Homo sapiens: one gene and its partners. The protein of the gene in region 2 interacts with the protein of the main gene of each other region in a pairwise test. Each region holds a gene or a part of one and is shown on either strand. Other genes may lie near its edges. The genes, in order: GOLGA1, SLAIN1 and PAX9.

Region 1 (7,412 bases), on a different chromosome or scaffold from region 2:
ACCAGCTAATTTTGTATTTTTAGTAGAGATGGGGTTTCACCATGTTGGCCAGGTTGGTCTCGAACTCCTGACCTCAAGTGATCCACCCGCCTCGGCCTCCCAAAGTGCTGGGATTACAGGTGTGAGCCACTGTGGCCGGCCTAAAAAAAATTCTTTTTAATAGTTATCAGACTACTTTAACCAGTGCCATGTTTAAACATACTTGGACAATAGACTCAGTTTTTTTAATAGTTTGAAGTACATTATATTAAAACTACAAACTCACTTATTCAAGCCTAAATTTCATCATAGACTATAAATTGGGTATCAATTTCCTATTTTGGTGGACAATTCCAGTCTGTCTACTACGACAATCATCTTTTTAGGTGTAATATTGTTTAAGACATAGGTAATTTTAGGTTTTATACTTTTCTCCTAGGCTTATGGAATGAAAGCTAATAGGATATCACTTTCAGAATGAAATAGGGAATTATGGCTAGCCTTCTTATAGGGCTGCCGTAAATGATACTTAAATGTTTGTTATATCACTGATTTTCTTTTCTCTTCTGAAGCTGTTGTGAATGTCCACTTTGCCATGATTAAAAGTTGAGATTTGTAAACATTACAATTTGAACCATAAATTTTCTCAAACATGAAATCAGTATGAATAAGTATAAAATTTGAAATGATCATACATGAGAATCCCAAAAGTAAATACTTCCAAACCATAGAGGGATAACCACTGTATTTTTAAAAAGCTTATTTCCACCCTTAAAGAAGCATGCTACTAATTGCTTTTTTTCTAAATTAAAACTATGTACTGTGGTAAATTAAAAATCTGCAGGAAAAATTGCTTAGTGTTTTAGCACAATAAGAATTTTTATTACTCAGGAGTTGGAGACCAGTCTGGGCAATACAGTGAAACCCTGTCGCTACTAAAATACAAAAAAAAAAAAAAAAAAAAAAAAATTAGCCAGGCATGGTGGTGTGCGCCTGTAATCCCAGCTACTTGGGAGGCTGAGGCAGGAGAACTGCTTGTAACCTGGGAGGCGGAGGTTGCAGTGAGCCGAGATCGTGCCATTGCACTCCAGTCTGGGTGACAGAGCAAGACTCATTCTCAAAAAAAAAAAAAAAAGGAATTTTTATTACTATTTCCTGAAGAATGGTTTTTGTTAACTTGTTACTGTATCATTAAAAAGACCTTCTAATGGTTCAGTACAATAATCTAGAACTTGATTTATGTGGCTTTTTATAGTTATCTGAATGCATTCCTTTTGCCACATAGACCATATGGCTAGTTCTCCAACTTTTTTGCTTATTTTTAATAAACCTTGCTGTTCAACAATCAGAGAAACCTTTAGATTTTGGATGATTCTTCCAGTTGAGGTAGAAACATCTTAGATAATAGGAAAGGCAAATACAAAGTCCTAACATTTTCATAGTAGAGTTTACAAGTAAAATAACTTATCCATATAGGTTATCTTCGTTGTGTAGCACCAGTATAAATAGTGATTTCATTAATCATTGAATCAGATGAAGCAGTTATAAATCACTTTTTACTTTGTGCTAAGAATTATTGTAATTTCAGGACACTTTATTATTTCCTCTGAGCAGTTTCCATTGGAAGGTTGAGTTTCCCTTTTTTAAGTTCTAATCATCACTAAAGGTTAAGATAATCAAATAGGAGTTAAAATAAGTTATGTTTGATCTTTTTCCCTTGAAAATAATGCTGAACTTATTGTCTACATTCTGATTATTAGGCAGAAATGCACTTGTTTAAATCATAGAAGTAATTCATTTGGAGGATATAATTACTCGATTTTCTAGTGGTGTGAAATACTTTTTAACAATTGTGCTTGTCTGTAACTGAAATGTTATAGAATTTTAACACTATAGGGATTATAGAGTTATATTAGCTCTCCTCAAGAGACTGAAGCACAATATTTTTCATGTAACAATTCTTATCCAAGTGCTGCTAATCTGTCGTGCAAATAATGAAGCTATTTGGTTGCCTATTTAGCTATTCACAAATCACTGTAATCTTTGAAACAATCTTGTCGTTCATTTGTATTAATATTTGGATATTGTGAGTTAATACTTTAGAAAAAAATCCATCAACTCAGCCCCGTTAGCAAAACTGTTTGGATTCATAGTTTTTATATGTGTTAACAGTAGAATAAATTTTGAAGGGGCTATTTACTACCAATGACTAAGGGGAAAATTATACTGTCACTATCATTTGACTTGAACATTTGTGGTATTGTAAAAGTCTTGTCAGTTGTGTTCTAAATTGCTTAAGCCATACGTTCTCTTAAACAGGATGTTTTTTTCTTCCTTTCCAGCAGCCTTTTTCTTCTTTGTCTGTTATGGTTAATACTCCATAGATTTTAGAAATTGAGAAGTTCTTGAAACATTTTATTTTCTTGAGTTCATCACTTTTGACTCTTGTATGAGATGTGATTTGTCATAAAAGATAGCCTTCCACTACTTCACTAAATGAATTTCAGAGTAAACACTGTGATTCTGCAGAGCGGATTCAGTAGGCTTTCCAATGTTTTCTCCTGCTATACAGTGCCTACCACCTTGAGGGCACTTCAGTACTAGAGGATGAAAACTGAAACGTTGTTTTGATGTTTATTGAATAACGAGATTAGAGAATATTTGATTTTTGTTGTCAGTGTATTAAAGAAATTTTCACATTGATAAATGTTCTCTAGGAATGTGTCTACATTCATCAGGTGTGAACTCTTGTACATGAATTTTGTACCTTGAATCCACATATATATTAAGTGTATCATCAATATAAAAATAAACATTATTTGCTTAAAGTTTTTGGTACTTTTTCGGTATTGACAGCTGAACTGTTAGGGTTTGCTTCATTCAAATATCTCAGAGGCTTTGAACTATCTTGGGGTTGATGCTTCTTGTTAGTTTGTCAATGTTTGAATCCTGGTTTTGGTTTTTTCCCTGCCCTGCTCCTGCAGGTCAGAACTGGAACACGCGAGGGAAGGGACTGTTGAAGAATTGGGTGGAATCTGCTTATTCTTGGGCTTGTGTTGAGTCTGGGGATGGAACCAGAGTTCCTTAAGGTGGAATGGCTGGCTTGGCATTGACGAGTTCAGGGACCTGACTTAGGGTACTGATTTGGACCGTGACTTTTTGTTTGAGATAGAGTTTCGCTCTTGTTGCCCAGGCTGGAGTGCAATGGCGCGATCTTGACTCACTGCAACCTACACCTCCCGGGTTCAAGCGATTATCCTGCCTCAGCCTCCCAAGTAATTGGGATTACAGGCATGGGCCACCATGCCCGGCTAATTTTGTATTTTTAGTAGAGACGAGGTTTCGCTATGTTAGGCTGGTCTGAACTCCTGACCTCGGGTGAACCACCCGCCTCGGCTTCTCAAAGTGTGGGGATTACAGGAGTGAGCCACCGCGCCCGGCCTGGACTGTGACTTGGAACAAGATAGTTTTTCCTCTTTTGTTTATTTTCCTACTGCCTGCATGATTGCTATTTATTTAAAGAGACGGAGTCTCGCCACGGTGCCCAGGCTGGTCTGGAAGCCCTGGTCTCAAGAGATCCTCCCACCTCGGTCTTCCGAGTAGCTGGGACCACAGAAGCGCGCGCCGTGCACTTTTGATGTTTTCAACTTCCTTCCTAAGCAGAAAGGAGACGGCCCAGCAGCGGATGGTGAAGCTAATCCAATATAGTGAGCTGCCACCAGCGTTTTTAAGTGCATTACATAGTAAGAACGTGGTTCTGCTGGACGTTATGTACTCGGTTGCGATATAAAACGCATCATCTACAGTAGGTGACAGGCGCCAAAGTCTAAAAACTGGTCTCAAGGTGTAAGGTCCCAGGACTAGTTTCTGGAGCTACTGGCTTGTGAGTGAAGCTGGAGGCGCAGACTTCCCGGGTCACACGGTGGCAAGGCAGCTGCCTAGGGTGCGGCGGGACCGGGCGGCGCGGGGGGGCGCCTGGCCAAGCAGTGCAGCCCCGGCCGGGTTTGTAGCCAGCACAGCACAGCGGGGCCTGTGGCACCGACTGGGTTCTTTTACTTTTGACACGAAGCCCCTCCCACTTACCACGCTCTGCACGCGCCCCTGTTAAAATAGAAAAAGACCGAGAGGCCTCGGAGACTCAGTCATCATCTGTGGCTCTGGCCGCTCGCTGACGTGGCGAACTGGGCTGAGGGAGCGCCCGGCTGGGCACCCGAGAACTCCAGCCGTTCCGGCCCAGTCGCCGCTCAGAGGTGGTAACAGTAGCCGCCAAGGCCGCGCACGGGCGCATGCGCGCGTCGGACCAACCCCCTCCCCCCACCGCGCAGTCACTTCCGGCGCGCTGGGAGACGTGCGGTTCCGGGTCGCTGCTCGGCTCGCCGGCTGGGCGGTGGGGGTTGGTGACGCGGGCCGGGGCTCACGAGAGGCCCGGGAGGCGGGGCTTTGCTGGCTTCCCAGAGAGAGGCAGGTGCGCGGGCCAGGACTCCGGGAATGCGAGCAGGCCCCTTATTCTCCCAGTGGCCTCGGTCTGTCCCCACAGCGGCCCGGTCAGGGTTGCCCGAGCCCCAAGGCGGGGGGCGGCACCGGGGTGCTGAAAGGGTGAGAGTGGGGGCGGAGGCGGGCTGCCCCGGCCTGGGAGTCTGGAGCCTAGGGTTCCGGGATTCCTCCCTGCGCGACCTTGGACAAGTCGCTCCTCCTCTCTAGGGCTCAGTTTCCTTGCTGTCAAATGGGAGAGATGTTGGATCCTTCCTTTCTTTGACAGTCCAAAGCACGGGCGGGGCTGGAGGTAGCCTGAGGGAGTGAGATCCAAACTGCCGTGGCAGGCACCTGCCTGCCTCCCTGGGGGTTAGACATCTGTCTTTACCCAATTTTGCCTTGCTTTTTGTCAGTGCACATCCGTGACCAGACGCCCAGGGTCTGGCCGGGTAAACAGTATGTGAGTGTAGTAATCAACTGAGAAATAAATACTGGCTCCAGGAAAACTTAACCTCATTCAAATTGTTTTGCTCAGGGCTCCCAGGGAGAAGTGAATTTAGGCACCCGCTGCGGTGATCAATTCTGTTCTATGCGCTTGTAAGTGAAGCTCTTAGGCAAAAAACAATTTCATAGGAGATCAGGGTTAGGGAGGGTATCCCATTGAGAGTTGTGACAGGTTTTCTTACCCCCTTTAATCCTTCTTCTGCCCCTCCTCTTCCTTCACTTCTTCCCCCTATCCCCACCCAACATTTTGGCCATACACTTGAAAAGAAATACCCAATGCATTTTATCTTTGTCTTCATGCAGGACAGAATGCTTTGACCTCCAAGCTGTTTTAAATCTAGTAGATAAGCCAGGTGAGTAAGTGGTTTACACACATTGAAAGTAAAGTTTCTGAAGAATTGTACAGCCTTAATGGAGGATCTGAAGTGGTAAGATGGCATTTGTGTATCTCAGAGCAGAGCTTAGGTATCCTCCACAAAACATGGAAAGTTAAGGTTGGAACCAGAATATTAGTGTTTTATACACCATTAGGAGGAAAAGGTTTTTGAATCTTACTTTGAATATCATGTCAAACATTCTTAAGAAAAGAAACTGTGAGGCCGGGCGCAGTGGCTTATGCCTGTAATCCCAGCACTTTGGGAGGCCAATGCAGGTGGATCATCTGAGGTCAAGAGTTTGAGACCAGCCTGACCAACACGGAGAAACCTCGTCTCTACTAAAAATATAAAATAAGCCGGGCATAGTGGCGCATTCCTGTAATCCCAGCTACTCGGGAGGCTGAGGCAGGAGAATCGCTTGAACCCAGGAGGTGGAGGTTGCGGTGAGCCGAGATAGTGCCATTGCATTCCAGCTTAGGCAACAAGAGCGAAACTCCATCTCAAAAAAAAAAAAAAAAAAAAAAAAAAAAAGAAAGAAAGAAAATAAACTCATTGGAGGTAATTTTATCAAACTCAAAACCACACAGCGTCTCTAGAAAATGTTCAAGGATATCAGATACTTATATAATAGAGTTGTCTGGTGTGTCTTCTTTTTTCTGTTACCAGCTTTTCCTATTGGACAGTTGATTGCAAACCATCCTGAAACAGTAGGATATTACACCTTTTACATATTGAATTACATATTGAATATTGAATTACATATGAATTGAATTACATGCATTTTTGTCTTCAACTTAAAGAACACTAAACTGTAGTTAAGCTTATTGGAGGAAGGATTTGAAATCATTAAGTCATGAATATATGATGTTGATGTCTGCTCTGGGACATTTTACCAAGTGTGTTATATGTCATAGCCAACATGTAATTAAAAAAAAAAAACGTAGAGATTTGTGAATCAGAGTCCTCTGTTCAAATACCAGCCCTTCCACTTAGCCACACAATCTTTGGTAGGTTACTTCATCTTCTTGAGACTGGGTTTCTTCATCTGTATATGCATATGAAGCACCTGAGTGCTTTTTAAATGTTTAGTAATTGTGTTCTATAAGTGTACATGTAAGTTATGAAACTTAGTTTTGAAATCTAAAACTTAACAACTCAGATGCGAAATCTTTCCAATGTTTAACTTTTGAACTGTCTCTTTCATCTGATTTGTAGATCCTGTGTTGCCATAAGCCCTTGGCCCACATTTAAGTGGGAATGCAGCTAGCTTGGATGTCTGAAACTTTGTAGGCGCCTCTGTCTGAATCCTGAACACAGGCACCAGGACTACTGAGAGCTCGTCATCTGTGCAGGATAGCCACACAGCAAACATGTTTGCAAAACTGAAGAAGAAAATTGCAGAAGAGACTGCTGTTGCTCAGAGGCCAGGAGGTGCTACTAGGATCCCACGGTCTGTGAGCAAGGAATCAGTTGCCTCAATGGGAGCTGACTCAGGAGATGACTTTGTAAGTACCTTTACTTAAGAAATAAAGATACTTTTGCAGGGTATTCTTCCAATAAATATTTTAAATTGCTTGATTATTTCATACCTTTCATGGTTTATAGCTGTACAAGAGCCTGTACATCTGATTCTTCTTACTCTGAGGTACCTTTTTGTTAATGTTTGGTTTGTAAATGTTAAGGTACTCTATATTTTTTTCCTTATTTTTCTGTGAGTTCCTCTCCATATTCTCTCCAGTGTCCTCTTGTACTGTTTTTCCGTCTATATACCTTATACATCTTCTTTTGCATTTCATTTCTGAAAATGTCTGGGCCTGTTTTCATTGCAGACATATATACTTATATAACAACTAAGTCATTGCTGCTTAACAAGGTCTCTGAGTTGTGGTATGGGGTTAGCAAGAGTGCATTGTTGTATTGGGACGATTGTTGGAAAGATGGCCCCAGTGATTACAGTATGTTGCTTTTTTTCTTTTTTCTTTCTTTTTTTTTTTTTTTTGAGATGGATTCTCGCTCTGTAGCCCAAAGTGGAGTGCAGTGGCCTGATCTTGGTTCACCACAACCTCTGCCTCTGGGGCT
Region 2 (7,111 bases):
AGTTTCCTGCTGCATCTCAGCCCTTGAAGATTAAACTGCTGATTTCTTGTGAAGATAGAACTAGAACATTACTTTTGGTTCCCTGAACTTTAAAGAATATGTGGTTATTAAAACGTTCCACATTGTTTGACAGGAAATGTACCTCATTTCCAGATGGTCTGACACAAGTTGGAGATCACAGCTTTGTTCCAAGGGGAATAGTGTCCTAAATATTTACACTTGGAAGACCTTATTTTTAAGAGCATATTTCAGGATTAAAGCTTTGTGAAACTGACTTGTTGCTTAAATATGAGTAAAGATTGGTTTTAAAGACTAACACAGATTAGAGGCATAGCCAAATGTAACGTATGGACCTTGATTGGATCGTGGTTTAGAGGAAAAAGCTTGTGAAAGATATTCTTGGGATGTCTGAAAAATTTTGTATGCAGATTATCATATGATATTGTTAATTTGTTTACATGTGATTACAATATTGTGATTCCATAGAATTTTCTCAGGAGATCAATATGCATTTAAAGTGTCAAGATGTCTGAAGTTTTATCTTGTTTAGCAAAGCAAACAAAAGTACATGTGGAGATGAATTAAATATGGCAAAATGGAAACAACCAGTATAGCCAGGTGGAAAAACAGGTGTTTATGATACTATTTTTTAACATTTCTATATGTATGAAAACTATTATAGTAAATAGTTGGAGAGAGATTTTAAAAAGAAATATAGAAGCTCAATTAATTTTCTCAATAGCATATAATTATGTTCCTGTGCCTCCCTGCTGCTTAAAAATATATGTATTGGAAATATGTATAGTGAAAATAGTCTAGTACTGATAGAGGCTGTCTTTTTTACACCAGTTTTTGTAATAGTCAAAAGATCTAGATATGGCCACTAAGATTATGTAGAGATGAATCCTTCTAATTCCTCCCTTCTTACTACACACTGTCTGCCAAATCATACACATAATATTTGCTGATATATAAAGTACCTGCTCTGTGAGGCTGGGAACTTTAATAGGAATTTGGGAATACGAGACGTATGATTGTTAAAAATAGGCATCAAGAAGATAATGAGGAAAATTGCCAAGGAATCTAACAGTCAGTGGCAATATTTGAGCATCCTTACTCTAGAACTACACACAGAAAGTAATGTGTGAGAGGTAGATACTTCCAGCTGGGAAGTCCATAGAAAAGCTTCTCTATGGTGGGGATAATTGTGCCAATTCTTAAAGTATTAGTAAGACCCACATGAGTAAAATATTCTTTTGTGCTTTCTACCATAGCACTCTCTACAATTTTTTATGCTCTCTTATTATACATATTATCTAAGTATACTTATTGTGCTTGTTTAATCTTCTGCCTTTTCCACCCCAAGGGAGCAAAAATTGCTGGACATGGCAACATTTAATAGGTGTTAGTAATGTCAAAGGAGTAGTGTATGAAAGGGGAATAAGAAGAGCTGAGTTTGATTTTGACTTGAATGCCTTTTGGATTAGCATTCAAGTATATCATTATTTTCTGGTTTTGCTTGAAAGAAAATGACCACAAGATTGAATGCTCTGATATGTGCACTTTAGTGTTTTGCGGTATATATCAATAAAGATAAAAATATCTTGTAAGTTGGAGGGGTGAAAAAAATTTTAGATATTACAATGATTTATGATCTTCCATGGTTTACCCCTATCAAAATGTTAATCTTTAATATTTATTTTATTTGGGAAAAAATTTAATTTTAAGTTTAATTAAATTTATTTTAGATTTTCTCTTTAGGATCAACAATGGGTGGGGAAGGATTGAGAAGCACTGGTCTAGACTATAAACCTAGACCATAAATCTTGACTATAAACTCAATGAGACTCTGGACTGTATCTGCCTAATACACTGTGGTATCCCCAACAGCTCACAGAGTGTCTGGTATTTAGTGTAAACACAATAGATGTTTGTTCCCTTGTTCATTTGTTCCTTCTCCAAAGTGAGGTTGGGTGTCCACATGGAGGGACCAGCCTGCTCACAGGTATGAGAGAGTTCACCCCTGTGGTCGGGGAGCAGGCTGAGAGGCCAGGCTGGAGAAGTATAAAGAGCCTGGGCCTTGAAGCCCTCATCTGGGCTGTGCTCAGGAGCTTGGCCTTTCAGAAGAGGGAGCAGGGGAGGAATTGAGGAGTTGGAGGGATTTCAGCAAGTGGGTGACGCATGCTGTGCTCTAGGAAGAGTGGAATCGAGTACTTGAATTAGTTTTGTCCTTGAATTAGTTATGGCTTAGTACTCGTATATATGCTTTTTTTTTCAGTTTAAATGACCTGACATAGGTACTTTAGTTTTTGGGGGATGTGTATTGATCAAGGAAAAAGTGTCTCATAGAGTTGTGGTCTTGTGGCTGGCTTATTTCACATGTGTTATTTCACACATCTCAACATTGAGATCTGTATGTGACTCTCTGCTGCCTCTTGGTGGCAGAAGATGAACTTAGCAAGGCAAAAAAATTGAAGCATTCTCTTGGTCTTTTTTATCTGCAAACATTTGGTGGCGTACTCATGAAAGTTAAAACTTTCCAGAGATTAATGTGGTCATGTTAATGTGATGAGTGGATATTTCAAGACATCTGAAGTTTGAATTTTATTAATTTGTTCCATTTTGATATGGTAGCAAAAGATTCAGTAAATGTTGGTTTTGATTCTTCTAGGGTTCTTTTTTTTTTTTTTTTTTAAGAAGCATGTAACTTAATTTCTAGGGTTGTTTTGGTAAATTTAATGGCTATAAGATTATTTTCTAACTTTTTAAATATAGTTTTAGCCACTTATTGAATAGGAACAGATAGCTAACTGCTTAGCTAGTCCCTAAGTCTTTTTATAGAAGTTTCGTTCTCCTTTAACACATTGTATTAGTTAGGGTTCTCTAGAGGGACAGAACTAACAGGATAAATGTATATATGAAGGGGCATTGATTAAGGAGTATTGACTCACACGATCACAAGGTGAGGTCCCATGATAGGCTGTCTGCAAGCTGAGGAGCAAGGAAGACAGTCGGAGTCCCAAATCCTCAAAAGTAGGGAAGCCGCCAGTGCAGCCTTCAGTCTGTGGCCAAAGGCCTGAGAGATCCTGGCAAACCACTGATGTAAGTCCAAGAGTCCACAAGCTGAAGAACTTGGAGTCTGATGCTCGAGGGTAGGAAGCATCCAGCACAGGAGAAAGGTGAAGTCTGCTCCTTCTGCATTCTTCTGCGCTTTTATCCTAGCCATGCTGGCAGCTGATTAGATGGTGCCTATCCAGATGGAGGGTGGGTCTACCCCTCCCAGTCCACTGACTCAAATGTTAATCTCCTTTGGCAACACCCTCACAGACACACCCAGGAGCAATGCTTTACATCCTTCAATCCAATCAAGTTGGCACTCAATATTAACCATCACACATGCTTATTTGGTGGGAACCCTTCTGGTTGGGAAGGGTGTTTTCCTGTACAATAGGTTAGAAAGCTTGATCATCAACATGTAATAATTTGTATTTATTATTGAGCACAATATGACTTTTGTTATTTGCTTTTGAAAGCTAGTACTTTGGTTGCATAACATCTGTCATTTTTAACTTAGTAAAATTCTTTTCCAGATAAGCTCCGAAGAAGTATGCCTAACCTAGCCCGGATGCCAAGTACAACTGCCATTAGTAGCAACATTAGTTCTCCGGTCACCGTGCGAAATAGTCAGAGTTTTGACTCAAGCTTGCATGGAGCTGGAAATGGAATTTCAAGAATACAATCTTGTAGTGAGTATAATTATTTGATATAATTATATATTGTATAATTGTATAATTTTTTATAATTTTTAATTGTAAGGAAAATGTCTGTTTTATTTCTTTGTATTTACTTGAAAGAACACTAAACTTTTTTCCTTGCCGTGTAACTTATTTTTTTATTTCACCATTAGAGTTGAATAGTATTTTTACTATTCAAATAGTATATTTACTATTCAACTTACCAGTGCCTGTGGTATAAATTACTTACCAGTGCCTGTGGTATCAATTAATAATAGTAAATTGTTATTTGTATAATAATAGTAAATTATTTGTAGTCCTTTATATCCTAGGATAGTAGAAGTACTACATGGTGATTGATTTATCCACTCATCATACAAAAATTGTTTTCCTTGCAGATCCTCCTCCTTCTAGCTGTCTACCTGAATAAGCACACTTAATTCTGTTTAGCCGTTCCTTTTGTCTTGTTTTTCACCTATGCATACTTTTGTCTTTTTCCCCCTAAATGAAGTTATATTTTAGAGTGTCTAAAGTAGTTTTTGTCCACTCTATTTAGCTTACCCCACATTCTGTTACTTACTTTCTATGTTTTACCCAGCAGTGAGTGACACAGTTAGCATTAGGCCTAGTGCTGTGTATCTTCACTTTATGTGGGGATGTGCTGCTTCGGCATCCCCCTATTCCTACTCATGCTGTCTATATGGGTTGTTGCAGTTAAGTCTTACACTGACTTCCAGGAGGAAGGCACAAGGTTATATTACCAGTATTCATAAAAATGCCCAAACTTGGGAGGCTGAGCATGTTCTGAGTGTACTGGCCAAGAGTCGTCAACCGGATGTTTTAAGTCTGCATCCAAAATGGTTTGTAGCTTTTCTCCCTCAAACTTAGTTTTAGGTGTCAGGTTGTATCTCCCTAACATGCAGCGATCTTTCATTTCTTTATGTTTTAGTTCCTAACAACCAAGTGACATCATTTACTCTGTACAAGGAACTGTGCTAACTAGTTTATATTCATTATCTTATTTAGTTCTACCAACAACTCTATGAATTAGTTTCTACTGCCATTCTTATTTTGTGGAAGAGGCAACAGTTCTGATAGGTTAAGGAACAGTTTGTCTAAGGCCATACAGTTGGAAGAGCAGAGAGGCAGACCTAGGTCTGGTTACTCCCAGAGCTTTTAACTGCTATCATATTCTAGCTCCACGTGCTGTTCTTCTCTGCCTAGCATTCTTCCTTTTCCTTCTTCGTTCAGTTTACTCCTATTTACTTTTATAACACAGTCCAAATACCATGCCTTTGGAAGTCTTCATTGCTTACTTAATCACCCTAACACACTTTCTCAAATACCCCCCAAACAATACTAGAGTGGATTAGATTTTCGGTGCTTACCTCTGTTATTCAATGTACCATGTTTTACTATTAATATGTTTGTCTTCCTTACTAGATTGTAAGCTCCCTCTGGGCTTGGGCCATCATTTATTTGATTTTCTGTTCCCAGTGCCTGACGTATTGCCAGAACATAAGGAACTCTCAGTGAATGCTTGAATGAATGCCACAGGATTCTATGTTAAGGCTTGACCTATTAAATATTTAGAACCAATGACTTGTATAAGGACACATAAACAACCTATGAAATTTGCCAATAGTAGAAACCGAGAGGACTAACAACTCATTTTATGTCAGGAGGTTAGGAGAATGGGCCAAATGTATCATGAAGAAATTTAGCTGATAGAAATATACAATTCTATGTCTGAATTACAAAAATCAGTAACATACCAGCCTAGGCAATATGATGAAACCCCGTCTCTACAAAAAATACAAAAATTAGCCAGGCATAGTGGCACATGTCAGTAGTCCTAGCTACTTGGAAGGCCAAGGTAGGAGGATCACTTGAGCCTGGGAGGTTGAGTCTGCAGTGAGCCAAGATTGCACCACTGCACTCCAGCCTGGGCAATAGATAGAATGAGACCCTGTCTTGAAAAAAGAAAAAAAAAAATCAATAGTGTAAGTGTGGGAGGGGAGAAATACAGTTTGGAGAATAGCAAATATAGTAACAATTAGGAATTTTTGTTGACTCCAACTCAATGTGTATTAGTAGCAGATTTGAGTGCCAGAAAAATGTATGTAGCCCAAAATAGAATGTACACTGCAAAGAATGTTCAGCCTTGATTGAAGTGCCCCCAAAATGACGGGAAAATGTCAAAAGGATACAGGAACCAAGTTGAAGGAACCTCCTAATGGCCAAATTTGGGGCAGTTTGAGCCACAGAGTAAATAATTATAGTAATGGATTATAACTGATGGAATAAAATAAATATGCATGGGTTCATACTTAATTGGATAAATAGAGGGGAACATCCTCTTTGTAGTAGATTCCAATTCATGCGTGTAAAAGCAATGAGGAAAATATAAAAATCATCATTTCTAAGTCAAGCATAATACTGAGAGAAAGCCCCCAAGAAGAATATTAAAGTGTAGGAGAAGGAGGACTCTCATAACTTTTGTTTCAAATCTTAAGATTATGTTCTCATTTACTTTCATTTCTGAGCATTCTAAGCCACTGTTCTTTATGCATTCTAAGTTCCTATCATGACAATTTCTGGTTCTGGGCCATTTTGCTTTCTGGAAAGAACAGAGGTAGGATAGAGAGTTGGAAAGGCTGCAAGTATAGAAGGAGGAACACAGTTGTAGTCAAAGACCTGGTTTTGGGTCTTTTCTTAATCATAAATTCTTTGGAAAGTTAAGTATTCTTTCTCAGTCTTGTTTTCTCAGTTGTAAAATTAGGATTATGCCTATTAATTCTAACTAGTTTCTCTTATGTGTTTTTTTTTAAATCAAGGGTGGTTATATATGTTACATGTAGGAGAGATAGTAGGACTCTATTCCTGAATAAACTGTTCTGTAATTTCATTTCAAATGAAATTGGTTGGCATTTCATTGACTCTGCAGATCAATTTTTGGAAGATCTTAACAATATTAAGTCTTTGCATCCATTAATATGTAATAGTCCTCCATTGACTCAGGTCTTTAATATCAGTGAAGTTTTGTAGCTTTCTATATAGAGGTTTTATGTTTCTATAGTTAAATTAATTTCTAGGTATTGTGATTTTTAATAAGTAGTATTTTTATAAATAGTATTTCCTCAGGTTTCTTTCAGTTTCTACTAGTTTGCTGGTATTTTGAATATAATTGATTTTTGTGTTTTGATATTGAATCCAGCAACTTTGCTAAATTAATATCTCCTAATAGTTACCCAACATAATGAGTGCATATGATCACCAAAACATGTTCAAGGAGGTTCATAAAACCCCAAATTAGAAATAACCTAGCTTTCTGTCATCAGGGGAATAATCACATTTATACAATGGAATACTGCTTA
Region 3 (7,111 bases), on a different chromosome or scaffold from region 2:
TACTAATACAAAGCAAAATAGACTAAATTGCATACCCTAGAAAAAGTAAGTTACTGCTTTGTTTTAATACTTTTAGGAAAAGACCAACTTCATCACACTGACATTAACGGAAATAGTCTAGAAAAAAATATATAAGATGCAATGTAGTTCTTCTAGTTAAGGTTATCACAAGAAGAATGAAAGTACAAGTTTTAATTTCGTTTGTTCCAAATGTTCAAAATACAGATTTACCAATTTTTTAAAAGTAACTTTGGTGAATATGTTGAGGAACTGTATTGGCAGAGGGCTAGATTGTAAACTGTCTGAGGACAGGGACTTGCCTTAATCATCTTGTATCCCCACAAAACAGGATACATCATAAGCATTCCACAACCATATGTATATTTAAGTTAGTATAGGTTTGTGAAAGCAAAAGATGTGACACTGTAGCTTAAAAAACAAAGCAAAAATGTAGGCACCGTTTATCACAAAACAAGCATTACACTTTAAGCAAGCAAAATGAATAAAGCTGTTGAAAAAAGTAAACAGAAGTTCTAACCTAGCCATTTATTACTTGATTTATGGTTATTCCATTTATCCTCCCTCCTCCAAGTAAAGGAAAATACGTTAGTATCAAAACACTTGTGACCACCATAAAACTGGTATGGCAAATGTCTGGCAGTTAGAGGTTATAGACCATTATTCAAATTCTGGGAATTGTCTACTCAACATTATTTATCGTGAAGATAAATGCAAATAACAGTGCCAGGTCCTCTACCCACAATCTGCTTTCACTTATCAGTTCAACCTGGTCCTCTTATGATAAAATGAATTTACCTTGGCTTTATAATAAAGTAGATTTAGCCACAAATAGAGATGTGCTTCACCTAGAATTTCAACCTCGATATCATAAGCAAGAAAAAGTTTTGGATCTGAAAATAAACAAGATTTTCTCTTTTTTGGTGAACTCATTTTTCTGTCATTCTTCCATTTTTAATGCATTATGCAATGACCTAGTAAAACATACCTGACAAAATGAAATGATGGTTATAAATATGGTTTCAACATTCATCCAACAAGATCTTAATTATGCTTACTTATCATATTGTAGATGTAAATGTCTCTAAGAAATGGAAAGCCGCTATTTAAAAGCTTTTCTAAATTTTATAATTTTCCAAAATATTATTAAAATTGACATAGCCTTGAAAAATTTGCAATTACCTTTCCCTGCTATTTTATACAATACATTTTACTGATACATGATCATTAATTTTATTTTGAAATACTACTGGTTAAAATGTAACCAGGTCAAAGAATGTTTTTCATAACAGATAACATTATGAATTTCAAAGACACTCTGCTGGCATTTGCCTAAGATTTCATTGTCTATAAATCATAACTTATTTACAAAAATTAACTTTAATATGAAGACAAATTTAGTGCAATATCATTTATATCTTCCTGAGAATAGTACATCCACAAGGACAGCCAGTTTTTAAAATAATACACTAGAAAATCACATTCAGGATTCTAGAAGACTATCTTCACTTCAAATGCATGTGCAAGTAAATGCTTCATAAGAATTTCAGATTATATCTTTAAATTCAACTATTTTCACAACTTAATTCTGAACTTTTAAAAAGTTCAAGTATTTATAGACTATTCTCTATTTCTGACATCTCAGTCTGTAGCTAGTGTTATATTAAACTTGCCAAATTAATATCTGCAACCCCAAAATGAAGATACCCAAAGCTTATAAATCTGTCACTCCAATTACTTTAGAGTATCAGATATGCAATGTATCTTTCTTGAGACAGTATGCCCATTTGTAGAAAATTTTTCAAGAACTATACAATTATTTATATATAGTTTGAATAAAATTGAGGCATTAATTCATGAAATACTTCCTAAAAGGGCAAATGTATTCCAGTCCCTATGATTCTCTATATAAGGTTTTTTGGCCACTCAATTTTATTCCATTGGAGTTTTATGCTTTCAACAGAAGAGAACCGGCCATCAGGAAGCAGAGAACATTGTTGCCATTCAGAAGTAAATGGAATTAAGTACTTCTAGCCCCAATATTAACTGTGGGTATAAAAAAGCCAAAATAAATATTCTATCCTCAGAGACAATAAGGACTTCTGAATGGCACTGCAAAATATTAATTACAATGTAATATTAATATGTAAGACAAGTTAGAATATTCTACACTGAATTTTCAAAGACAAAAGATAGGTATATGCATAGCTGAAATGTGCATACAGTTTTAATTACTAGGAATCAGGACATCTGTCTTTACAGTTTAAGCTGAAAATAGAAACTCTAGATTATGGTAATCAATAGTATCTATACTCAGTTGCATAGTTTAGCCCTTTGGTAATTCTACAGATGTCCTCAAGAAAAATATGCTTTAAGCTCTATGATTCTGAATTCTCAATTTCCTTCTTTGTATAATAAAATTAAACTAGTATCATATAATTTTGCACTATTTAATAACAATCACAAATGCCCTGAAAGTGGGAAAAATTTTAAAGCTTTTTTTTGGCCAAAGACATTCAAGTTATTGTCCATAATATAAGCAGAGGGAAAAATACGTGTTACCAGAGTTTACATTTTGGTTGAAATATGCTGATTCCATTTTGAAAAATAACTTTTAAAAATAAATCTGCCCTTTGAATATTGGTAAGAGAAATGCACATATATGGGCAACACTTTACCTTTGTATGTTTATAAACAAGTATTAATGTGCAATTTAACCTTACATGAAATCAATGTCTAAAGTTCAAAACTGCTCAGAAAAATGGCACGGCTGAACTTGGCACATCTTCAACATTAAGCACTATTTTGATAATTATCATAGAGTAGCCACTAATTTATATTATTCTTAGAAACTTTTCAGGTTTTGAAATTTTACATCATTTGAATTATCTAACTATTAAATACATTGCAATGCAGAAGATTAGCATATTGCAATTAAGAACTTCGCAAATGTAAGTTTCATATAAATATTTTTATTCTGGAAAAAATAGCTTATTAAGTATTTAGAGCAATATTTATTTGGTTACTTATTTCTTTAAATTATATTCTTTTATAAATGTGATAATTTAGTGATTTAAAATTTAGTATATAAAATGTAATCTATTTTTAATAATCAGAATATCAATTATTTAAAACTTCAAATTTTTTATTTTAAATAATTTGTCAGTTTAGTTTTGAAGTGTATTATAAATTAAGCATTTCCAAACAAATTTCAATGTTAGATCTATAATTCAAGGAAGAGAAAATAAAAATTACTGGCCGGCACGGTGGCTCACGCCTGTAATCCCAGCACTTTGGGAGGCCGAGGTGGGTGGATCACGAGGTCAGGAGATCAAGACCAGCCAGGCCAACATGGTGAAACCCTCTCTCTACTAAAAACACAAAAATTAGGTGGGTGTGGCGGCGCGTGCCTGTAATCCCAGCTACTCAGGAGGCTGAGGCAGGAGAACCGCTTGAACCCGGGAGGCAGAGGCTGCAATAAGTAGAGATCGCGCCACTGCACTCCAACCTGGCGACAGAGCTAGACTCCGTCTCAAAATAAATAAATAAATAATAAGTATAAAGGGTTTTTTTTGGGATTATGACTGCTTGATATATAAACTGGGTTCATCAATGACATGTGGGAATTAGAAACTTTTTCAACTCTATACTTCACAATGTTATTCCAATCAATGATGACCTAATAAAAAGCACTGAGCGCCTATTAAATGCTTGCTTCTATGGTAGGTGCTTTATATACACTCTTTCTATTGTTTGTAACAAAATCTCTTGAAGCTTTTTGACTATGGTCTCTCAGAACAAAGTATACTCTGATAAATATTACTTACTTTTACACGTGTCTTTTTAACTGCCACTTAGAACCACAGACAATACTTAATAAATGCTTACTATGTGCCATATGGTTGCATTATCTCATTGAATACTCATAACATCTCTGGGTTGGGAATATCATTTCCCTGTTTTAAAGATGAAGAAATAGAGACTAAAAATTAAATATTTTCCTAAGAAGTCGTACAGCCAGAGATCGGAGCTCCTAACCATTGTACTATTCTGCCTTTTCTTTGCAAATTACGAATTAAGGGTGGGTCGTTTAGTAAAAGAAAATGACAAACTTCCTTATCATTTCTCATTGACATTCTTCACAGTAGAAACAGACTAAGGAAAAGGGCTCTCTTTCCTTGCTATTTTCTGTGTTATTTGCCATTGGAGAGCCACTAATATGTATTCTGATTCTATTTCAACAAAATAAGAGAGGGAAGAGGAAGTGGAAATGGGATTTGTTACAGAAAATAATGACTAAGATGTTTTTTCAAGTGAATAAGAGGAACAAATTCCACTTAATTTTAAAAGCTGATTTTGACAGACAAAAAAGCATTAAAAATTTTAAGTCTTCAAAATAATAAAAGGAAAACTGAATAGCTTGAGGCTTTGGAATTGAGTTTGGGATTAAGAGATTTGCAAACCTACTGGGGTCTGCTGGGGAAACCTTACATTGCCTTAAGGTCCGGTTTTTTGAGAGTTTTGAACTCTTGACTCCAGGACGGTGATGAATTTAGACTTAAATCTGGGGCTTTTGTTGTGGTGGTTGTTTAGCTTTTCTCGGGGGGAAAATAAAAACACGAGTGTTTTAAATTTTCCTTTGGAGACATGAGGGAGGGACGGAGGGAAAGAAAAATTAAACGGTCCACAGCCAGTCCGTATAATTTGAGGTTTTCTCACTAACTTCCTTGGGAGATTACAATGTGACCTTTAGTCGAGAAAATGGTAGCTTTGTTACGTTTATCTGGGTGCCCCTCTCCGCAGGATTGGCCAAGCGTGTTTGTCCGAGAGCCACCGGAGAGAAAGTCCGAACGTGAGGACCCCGCAGCCGCAGTCGCACCGTGGGGCCGAGACCCGGGGCGCGCGTTTCGCGGGCGTGAAGGCGCGGCTCTGAGGCCCCAGGGCTGCTCCGCTCGGCCCTTCAGAAGCGCCTTCTTTGGTTAACTCTACCCCCAACGAGAGCCGCCGAAAGGGCTTCGGGAGCCGCCTCCCCAAGCTCCCGGAGGCCGACAGGCCTGGAGGCGCTTCCCAGAGCCTCGCCCCGGGGAGCTGCCGCCCCAGACCCCCAGCGCCCTGACGAGCGCTCCCGGCCCCTGGCGGGGGTCGAGGCCCCAGCTCCGCCTTCCAAGGCTCAGGCCTCTGCTTCGCCCCAGTCCACGAAGGATCTGGCTCGTAGCAGCAAAGGGACGCCAGCCTGGGCTTCTCTCGCGGGAAGCTCAGAAAGGGACCCATCACAAAGTGTTCCATCGCCTAAATCCCCGCCGCCACGCGGCCCACCTGGCCTGACCCTCGCCTCCTCACCTGACCGTACTTGGCTTCCTGCTCCAGGGCTCCCTTCTCCAACCCGTTCACCGCGTGCGGGGCGGCGGCGGGGAAGTTGTTGCGGCCCAGGCTGCTCCACTCCTCCACCTTGGGGCTGTGGTAGGGGGAGCTGTCGCTCACTGATGGAGAGAAGAGAGGGTGTCAGGCCGGAGGCCCAGCCCGCGCGCCCCACTCTTGAGACGGGACCCAAACCCGCGACGGAGAGCTGGAGGGCTTAGACCTTGGGTCGGCTCCCTGCCCTTGGCCTCCCGAGGGCGCTGGGCCCAGCCGCGACCTCCTGTGCTTCCAGCCCAGGGCCTGGTGAAGTTTTACTCCCCTCAGAGTAGGCCTTTCCAAATTCTCTGACCCACGCCTGAGGGAAGACACTTTTTTCTTTTTCAACCGGTTTTTGATTTCCCTTCGCCCCTTTGCTCTCCCAGGGCAAAGGAGTGGAAGAAACCTAAATCGGAGAAGGAACCCTTAAGGCTGCACGTGCCGTTCTCCACCTCCTCATTCTTAACCCAAGGCCGACTGGGGGTTGACAACAATTTGGCAGTGGGGCTGGCTGAAAAGAAAGAGAGGAGCGTCTGACCTAAGGGTGCCTGCACTGGTGCTCACTGCACTGTGGGGATCTGGTACTTATGTCAATAGAGAACAAAAAGACCTGCACTGTCCTTTGCAAACAAATAACTAAATTATTCCCACGATACAGTGCAAAATATACATGCACAGATTTCTGCTTTGTGTGTGCATAGGGCTCCCCTTGATACACTACCTCTACACATTACATATGTGATATGTGCATATGACTTAAAAATAAATCTTGCAATTACCACTATACATGCCATGGGTGTTAGTGGCAGGGTTTTCCTGAAAGAGTTTAAAAAATGTATATACAAGAAAGAGAAAATGAAATAGGTTAAGAAAATGAAAGTAAAATTAAGTGTTAAGGTGTAATGCCATCAGTTATTCTTTCTGTTCTTGGTGGAGATGCAAAGAAAATTGTATGGTGTAAAGTAATTACTATAATACCTGGGGTTGAGAATATTGAATTATTGGCATTTTTCAGTGACCAGGTATAGTTTCAAAGAGATATGTGAAGGCTACAAACAATGTATGTTTGTCTTTGGGTCCTATGGGTGGAGGAGTGGTTTGGCAAAGCCATTGTAACTTGATTTTAAACACTTCCATCTAACACAGTGCTTTAAAAGAGTGAGCATTTTTGTAGAAATGATCATTTTTATAATCACAAATGTGTCACAAACTGGGTTGTTTAAAGCTGGCATCCAAAATCACAATAATATCTGAAAGGAAAAGTTGCTCCTTTCCATTCTCCAATACTTTCCCAACTGACATTTGCTCTGATGGTAGGATCCCTAGGCAGGAAAAGTTTTCTTTTAAACTCTGTCAGCCTTTTTTTTTTTTTTTTTTTTTCACTATGTCTCCTCCTCTACCACCCCCAAGAATTAGATTGAGTCCCATTTGCACCAGGAAACTGTGTTTTGGTCCAGAACTGCCTGTCTGTCTTTGCCTTCCCAGACAAAAGGCAGTCGGTGGGCACAAGCTTGAAGTTATCTTAAGAAATTGAGATCCCCCTGTGAGCCCCCATTTCTGCTGATCTCACACTTTCCCATGAACAGGGGCTTCCTTTAAATGTCAGTGAGGTCAGTTTATCCTATAAATCAAGGGCAAACTCTCTCCAACTATGGCTCCAAGTAGCTCCAAATAAGACAAAACTGGGCTCTTGTAAACT

Evidence for each region.
Region 1: the proteins of SLAIN1 (region 2) and GOLGA1 interact in binary tests that used the Homo sapiens proteins (3 or more experiments, as listed by UniProt).
Region 3: the proteins of SLAIN1 (region 2) and PAX9 interact in binary tests that used the Homo sapiens proteins (3 or more experiments, as listed by UniProt).

The regions. Positions count from the first base shown.
Region 1 is NC_000009.12:124,938,003-124,945,414, reverse strand, and holds the start of GOLGA1 (golgin subfamily A member 1), read left to right. Parts: upstream 1-4,331; 5' UTR 4,332-4,444; exon of another isoform or gene 4,445-4,575; intron 4,576-4,609; exon of another isoform or gene 4,610-5,049; intron 5,050-5,259; 5' UTR 5,260-5,309; intron 5,310-6,548; 5' UTR 6,549-6,703; coding exon 6,704-6,838; intron 6,839-7,412. UniProt on the Homo sapiens protein: Involved in vesicular trafficking at the Golgi apparatus level. Involved in endosome-to-Golgi trafficking. Mechanistically, captures transport vesicles arriving from endosomes via the protein TBC1D23.
Region 2 is NC_000013.11:77,749,613-77,756,723, forward strand, and holds part of SLAIN1 (SLAIN motif-containing protein 1), read left to right. Parts: intron 1-3,590; coding exon 3,591-3,746; intron 3,747-7,111. UniProt on the Homo sapiens protein: Microtubule plus-end tracking protein that might be involved in the regulation of cytoplasmic microtubule dynamics, microtubule organization and microtubule elongation.
Region 3 is NC_000014.9:36,664,849-36,671,959, reverse strand, and holds part of PAX9 (paired box protein Pax-9), read right to left. Parts: intron 5,499-7,111; coding exon 5,359-5,498; intron 1-5,358. UniProt on the Homo sapiens protein: Transcription factor required for normal development of thymus, parathyroid glands, ultimobranchial bodies, teeth, skeletal elements of skull and larynx as well as distal limbs.